Linked DNA regions of Homo sapiens. The protein of the gene in region 2 purifies or fractionates together with the protein of the main gene of each other region. This does not show direct contact. Each region holds a gene or a part of one and is shown on either strand. Other genes may lie near its edges.

The links. Proteins that work in one complex are often made in the same cells at the same time.
Region 1: the proteins of SPINK14 (region 2) and UBR3 purify together in Homo sapiens (affinity purification with mass spectrometry; one large-scale study listed by BioGRID and IntAct). This does not show direct contact.

What each region holds. Positions count from the first base shown.
Region 1 is NC_000002.12:169,924,801-169,928,453, forward strand, and holds part of UBR3 (E3 ubiquitin-protein ligase UBR3), read left to right. Parts: intron 1-818; coding exon 819-947; intron 948-1,891; coding exon 1,892-1,944; intron 1,945-2,037; coding exon 2,038-2,171; intron 2,172-2,519; coding exon 2,520-2,605; intron 2,606-3,653. UniProt on the Homo sapiens protein: E3 ubiquitin-protein ligase which is a component of the N-end rule pathway. Does not bind to proteins bearing specific N-terminal residues that are destabilizing according to the N-end rule, leading to their ubiquitination and subsequent degradation.
Region 2 is NC_000005.10:148,167,027-148,170,779, forward strand, and holds the start of SPINK14 (serine protease inhibitor Kazal-type 14 precursor), read left to right. Parts: upstream 1-1,519; 5' UTR 1,520-1,541; intron 1,542-2,418; exon of another isoform or gene 2,419-2,634; 5' UTR 2,635-2,706; coding exon 2,707-2,773; intron 2,774-3,753. UniProt on the Homo sapiens protein: May be a serine protease inhibitor.

The DNA of each region.
Region 1 (3,653 bases), on a different chromosome or scaffold from region 2:
AAGGCGGGCAGATCACGAGGTCAAGAAATCGAGACCATCCTGGCCAACATGGTGAAACCTTGTCTCTACTGAATATACAAAAATTAGCTGGGCATGGTGGCGTGCACCTGTAGTCCCAGCTACTCGGGAGGCTGAGGCAAGAAGAATTGCTTGAACCTGGGAGACAGAGGTTGCAGTGGGCCAAGATCGCGCCACTGCACTCCAGTCTGGCGACAGAGTGAGATTCTGTTTCAAAAAAAACAAAAAAAATGATGACTGCCTAGTTTTAGTTGACACTGGACATAAATACATGAAGAATTAAATACTGATGTAGTGAGAACATTTATTCTAACCTCCAATATTTGGAAAATTAGCAGTATAGATTTAAGATTGAGTTAGGGTGAATTAAAGATGTAGAATGTATTCATTGACTTTGAACAGTTGGTTTTATTTTATGCTTATTCTAGTGTCTTTCTTTAAACATGTATATTAGGATTGTTGTTGTTGTTACTTAGGGTTTTCTTGAGGGAGAAATAGAGTGAAACATAAGCATTGATTTCTTATGAAAGATGTCAGTGAAAATCATCATAAATGTATCCAGAGGCCAACATGGAAAACCAACTCATTTGTTTAAACTCTAAAAAAGTGGCTATGTAAAAACATAATTATTGTTAAAAAAAATGTAAAAATGTATATTTCAACTGATTATCTTTAACATTGGACAGAATATCGGGCTTATACTATGATCACATCATTAAATATTTTGAAATGGTTATTTATAATATTTTGTAAAGATTGCATTTAGATAATTTATTCTTTGTCCAATTTACTTTTATTAGGCAAGTCTTGCAGAAATCCACAGCAATATGTGGGTAAGAAATGGTCTGCAAATCAAAGGACAAGCCATGACGTATGTCCAGTCTCATTTCTGTAATTCCATGATTGATCCTGACATTTACCTGTTACAGGTAAGCCAGCTAGATAATGCAGATATACTTTAGAAGTGTCTCATTTGTACCCAAGGGATTTTAATTTATAGAGGTGACTGCGTGATGACATGGAGAGGCCAATGCCATTGAAAGAATAATTTTTTACTTACATTTCCCAGGAGAAGAGGCATACCACCCAACACAAGGCTACAAGGAAAGCACCAGATTTTGGTCAAGAGGCAGAAAGGAGTGAGGGGAGAGCCTAGGCCAGAGCCTTTATTGGGGTTTCTGCAGGAAAGGCAAGGAAAGGCAAGGCAGGATTGGCTAATTTGAATAATTCCAGCAGGCTTTGAGGCATAGGGGCTGTATCTGGCTCTGCGGTACCTGGCCCTGGGTTGATTTAGGGGAGGGGAAATACTGGGTTGATGTGTGAGAGTTAGATAAAGACAGTGGTTGGCTTGCATGACAGGCATTTTCCCAAGTAAGTTGTTTAGTATGTTCAGGAATTAACTGGCTCTGGGAGGGACTATCTGTCTTCAGGTCTGTAATGCCCCTCAAGATGTCAAAACATCATAATATACAGAAAATAAAAATCATAGCCAGGCGTGGTGGCTCATGCCTGTTATCCCAGCACTCTGGGAGGCCAAGGCAGGCAGATCACTTGAGGCCAGGAGTTTGAGACCAGCCTGGCCAACACGTCGAAACCCTGTCTCTACTAAAAATACAAAAATTAGGCAGGTGTGGTGGCACACACCTGTAAATCCCAGCTACTCGGGAGACTGGGGGATGAGAATTGCTTGAGCCTGGGAGGCAGAGGTGGAGGTTGCAGTGAGCTGAGGTTGCACCAGCTTGGGTGAGAGTGAGACTCTGTCTCAAAAACAAAAAACAAAAAACAAAAAACAAAAAAAAGTATAGAAAAACATGATTAATAGAAGAAGGAAAACTGAATATTGAGAAATAAAGCATTTTGTTTTCTTTTAAAGGTTTGTGCTTCTAGACTTGACCCAGATTATTTTATTTCATCCGTCTTTGAAAGGTAGGCATAATTTTATTAAGACAGGTATTAGGAAGTGTCCAGTTAATTTTGTTTTAATTTATAAAAATATGTTTCAAATATTTCTTCTTGTAGATTTAAGGTAGTGGATTTGTTGACAATGGCATCACAACATCAAAATACAGTACTTGATGCAGAGCATGAGAGGTCGATGTTAGAAGGCGCTCTTACATTTCTTGTGATTCTTTTGAGTCTTCGTTTACATTTAGGTAAAACTCACTGATACTAATACTTATGCATTAACTGTTTTCCTCCCTTTCTCCCCCTCCCTGTGGTAGTAACTGGCTTAGGGAAAAAAGGAAAGGATGTAGATAAATGTAAACAATGTTTCAAACTCTTGATATGTTGTACTGTAGGTATACCTTTTAGAATATCCTTTGCTTAAGGGAACTGCAAACAGCAGTTAAACTGCAGTTATGTTTGGAGCATAGCTTCTTTACTCTTTAATTTGAAGCATCTTATATTTGGTAAAACAGCTTAGTAAAAAGTGTGGTAAGTTTTTTTCTTTATAATTTATGTATACTCAGATTTGTTAATTCCGTTTTTAATAATTTTAGGAATGTCTGATGATGAGATTCTCAGGGCCGAGATGGTAGCCCAGCTGTGTATGAATGACAGGACACACAGTTCATTGCTGGACCTCATATCCTTTTAAAATTTTACTTTCTGTTAGTTGCAGGATCTAAAATAAGTATTTTTTATGATTAATAGTTTATCAATTTTTTGATTAATTTTTTTTCAAAGTTGAAAAATAATATAGAAAAAGAAGAACACCAGTTGTGTGCTCAAGTATGTATTCAAGCCTGGTGACTGTTTTTTTTTTTTTTTAACCTCCTGTTATTACCTCTTGGGGAACTCTTCTTAGACTTTAGGGTAGATTTCAGGACTGAATGATGGCTTTGGCCACCCCAGCATTTAACCTCCTAGTGGACAGCATTACTGAACGTTTTATAAAAGGCAGCTAGGTCCATTTTGTCTGTGTAGCCAGGATGCAATTCATGGTTAACAGTTAAAGGTATACCTTACGATTATTATTACCAGGATTTTAAACATTTTGAGGGTTTTTCTGTAGAATTTGGTCTTAAAGGATTTTTGAATTTATAGATTTTTGTGTACAAACAGGGAACCTGTGGTTCTTTGTATAGGACTGAACATACAATGAGAATCTGATTATCTTTTTAAGTTAATGTTAATAAAATTTTACACAAAGATTATCAAGTAATTTTGTGATAAAAATTCTGGCCGAATTTAGTATTTGTATATCTTATGACTATGTTTGGAAGAATTGGCTAAACTTTTTATTTTGTGAAATAAGTCCTATTAGAATGCCTGTTTGACAACCTTGATTTTTGTAAGCAGCCTCAATTTGATACTGTCTGATGATTTCCTTCAGTCATTATGAACTATGTGTCAGTGCTATTATAGAGTAAAAACGATCTCTGTGTCTTTCAATTTTAAAGATTTATGTGCTTTAATGTGAGGAGAGAATCTTTTTGGTTTGCCTCTTTGCTTATATTTGCTTAGTATTTTTTTCTTTGGGGATGAAATTTTGTGTTTTTGGAAAAACAATCTTTGCTCATAAAAATCTTGGCTAATTTTTCACAAGTTCTTTCTGTTTTTTAAGGAAAAGTTATTTACAAAATGGTAAAAATGAAGACACATTTTTAAAAGTTTTTCTATCGTTTTCTGAA
Region 2 (3,753 bases):
ATAGCATTTATTGGTGGCTTATCTGGCTCAGTTTTCAAAGCTGTTTAAGTGTTTGTTCAATTAAACCTCCAAAGAGCACTTGATGGAATGTGTGATTACCCAATAGCGCAAAATGGAAAATTCTGTGGTCCAGATAGAATAAATTACTTTCCAAGTTGACAAAACATTATAAATTGATGTTCTGATTCTGCGTTCAGAATCCTTTCTAAACAACAGGATGCATCTACCTTTCCAAACTGGGGAACAAATGATCTACTCAGGAAGATAGCAGGTTGTTTTCAAAATATTTCTTGTAAGTATGGAGCCCAGAATTACAAGTATGGAGCCCAGAAATGTGATGAAAACCACCACCTCTCTCATATTCTAGGTGACCTAAGTTCTTTCTGGAAGTTTTCAATGGGTTTATTTACAGGCATTTATTAAAATAAAATATTAAAAGACAAGTTAACTGAGGTAAATAAAAATCTGCCTATGCTAGCACTATTAATAACAATAAAAAATTGGCATCACCCTAATTGAGCAACAATTAAAGAATATTAGTATAATTAAAATCCACATATGTGATGGAATATGACACCAGGCATCTAAATTCATGTTCAATATATTTAGAGATCAAGAAAATGTAATAGTGCATTTCTAAGTGAAAAAACAATATATATTATAAAAGTTGAATATTGTAATAAAACATATGTACCTGTGTGATTATGTATATATATTTAAACTGGAAGAATATAATTTTATATATATTTAATAGGTACCTCTGAGTTGTAAGATTTCACACCTTTTTATTTCATTTGTATATTTTTTGTTTTATATATTTTATTTCATTTTGTATGTTTCTTTTTTTTCATATTTCTATTTGGCCATTTCTATTTGTATGTTTCTACTTGCTCCGCCTCCCTCTCTTTTTTGTATATTTCTATTTTATAAATTTTCTAAGTGAGCATATATTTTCTTTGTATAAGAAAAATAGCTTTTTACAGAAGGAATGGTAGAGGCCAGAAGTTCAGATAATAGGAGGACCTTAAGCTATAATAATATATCTTCCCTGTTAAAATGGCAAAGGCTCTGGGTTACTACAGGCACAAGGCTGGATCTACTGCAAATGGTATCCAAGGATCTCATCTGTCACTGCAACCTCCTGTACCAGCCTTTTCTTTATTAGATGTTTCCACACATGTTTTCATTCTGGTCCTAATACTGGTCCTGGTCTTGATACTAATTATTGTTGTGGAACATGTTATATTCTTTCTGCTTGCTCTTTCCTACTGTGGGATGTTTTCTCATGCTATTGCCTCTCTTGAATTGCCTGCTAATGGCTGCCCTTTCCAGTGATCTCTTCTTACCCTCCTCAGGTCTTCCCCTGCTGAGGTTTGATGCAATCTGAATGATGGATCTCCAGGGCCTGCTCAGTCCAGCACACAATGCCTCAGTGACTTTTCTGTCCTACGCAGCAGTTACTCTATTTCCTCCTGGGGCCCTAATACATGCTTCTTAGAAGGAGCACATTATATTCCTCTTCCTTTTCTCTTCTTTCTGAGGTGGGTCAGCTGTGACATGAGGGATGGAGAGAGTGGGCCTCTGTGTTTTGCTCTAGTTTTCTGGCTGCAGCTGAACTTGTACTGTTCCTGTTCCATTTCTGGAGGAAGCCAGGGAAAATATCAGGATGAGATGGGGGTGTGTTTAGCAAAACATGGTGTCCCAGATTGTGCCAGGAGTAGGCATGGTAGGCAACCTTTCATAGTGTACAAAGAACTTGCAATCATCCTGAGAGTAGAATACTCTGGCTACATTTTAATGTCTTAAGTAACACCTGCCACATCAGAGCACATCAGCAGAGTTTATATAAATTATCCATTGACATGTGTTGCAGACAGAGATAAAAGCCTAGAGAACATATGGAAGACCAGGCTACTTTTCTAGAATTAGGAATGGAGGAACAGTTAAATGTGGTCCTTGGTCAGGCCCTGGAAACTGCAGTTTCCATTCTCTGGGGTCAGAAATGTTGCTACAAGGAAAGTCCATCCCGAGGGAGGATTTGCTCTCTGACTTTTCCCTTTCTGTGTCTGGATTAAAATAGCTGTGGGACCCCAGTGAGATGGCAGATAATGATTTTTCTCCCTGTGAATGTCCTCAAAGAGTCTGGGATTCAACATCAGAAGATCCTTGGTATAGACAAGCATGCCTGAATCATCAGAAATCTTTGTCTTAATCCAAAGAGGTATTCTTTGCTTGACGAGCAAGTACAGATCCACTCCACTTATTGAGAAGTTCATGTTGTCTAGGGACCTCAATAGCCCCATCTTTTTTTTTGCATCCCCTCAAAAGATAAATTTAGGTGAAGCTTCAGGTAAGGAGTTGCTTTTTCATGACATGTAAAATGTTTTCCCACTAAAATAATACACTTATGCCCACAGAGTAACCTATGATTTACTTCTGAGTATTCAAAGATCTGTTACTGAGCTCTATACTTTTAATCAAGATAGTTATTCAAGGTTTAACTTTTTAAACATTTGTTTCTGAAGAAGAATGGAATAGGCTTTCCAAATACATAGTACTGAGGATACAATGGGTGGAGTAGAGATGGCTCTTCATTGTAAAAGTCATCTTAAATCCTGATTGTCTCTACTTTAGTGATTGTATTAGAGGGCAACAACCTGAGACAATATTTCAGAGCATCATTCCAAGGACACACCAGGAGGAAAAATGGCCAAATCTTTCCCAGTATTCTCACTTTTGTCCTTTATCTTGATACATTTGGTGTTATCTTCTGGTGAGTAATTTAGCTGGTCTTGGCCAGCAGTTGAAATTGATTTGTGGGCTTTTACATCATAATCTGAGAGAGAATGCTTTGAAATTGTTCTTTAACTGGGATGAATATATATATATGTGTATATATATATAAATTATCCATTGACGTGTTGCAGAGTGTATATATGTATATATATATTTATATATATACTCAGAGTATATGACAAAATGAAGGTCTCTGCCCATTGAATCAGTATTTTAGACTCTCTCTGTCTCTATATTTGTATATACACACATATACATATACATATATATACACACACATGTATATATATACTCTGAGTATACTCAGAGTATATATATGTATACACATACTCAGAGTATATATATATATATACACACACACACACACACACACATACATATATATATATATAGAGAGAGAGAGTCTAAAAGACTGATTCAATGGGCAGAGACCTTTGTTTTGCCATCTTTTGCATGCCGATTATGAGATTTAACTCATGAGGGCAAGGAGGCTTGGGTGACTCACTGAGGTAACATGTAAAAGTGACTAGCAATATAATATGCATACATGAGATCACATCTGGAAAATTTAGAGTGTTTGATTTGCTGTGTATTTGACTGGACCATTATCTTTTGTGCCCTCTTCTAGAGAAGAAATCATGTAGGGAGTCATAAAGAGGCCTAGCCTCAAGGGCTGCAGAGCTTGCTTTTTCACATATCTACCAAGAATTCCTGAGTATTACCCAGGTGTCTTTCATGCCTAAAAAAATATGATGATTGGGCCAAAAGATCACTTTAAAGTTACAGCATTGCTTATTTCTTTCATACATAGATTACCAGCTCTAAGTCCTCTCAAGTCCAAGCTAATTAGGAAAATTATTTAGTACACTGGACTGCCAGCCTTTATGAAACAGTGATGCATCTATATAGTCCCCTGCTGATATCAATTAGGAGTAAAAGATTTATTTCACATTTAAA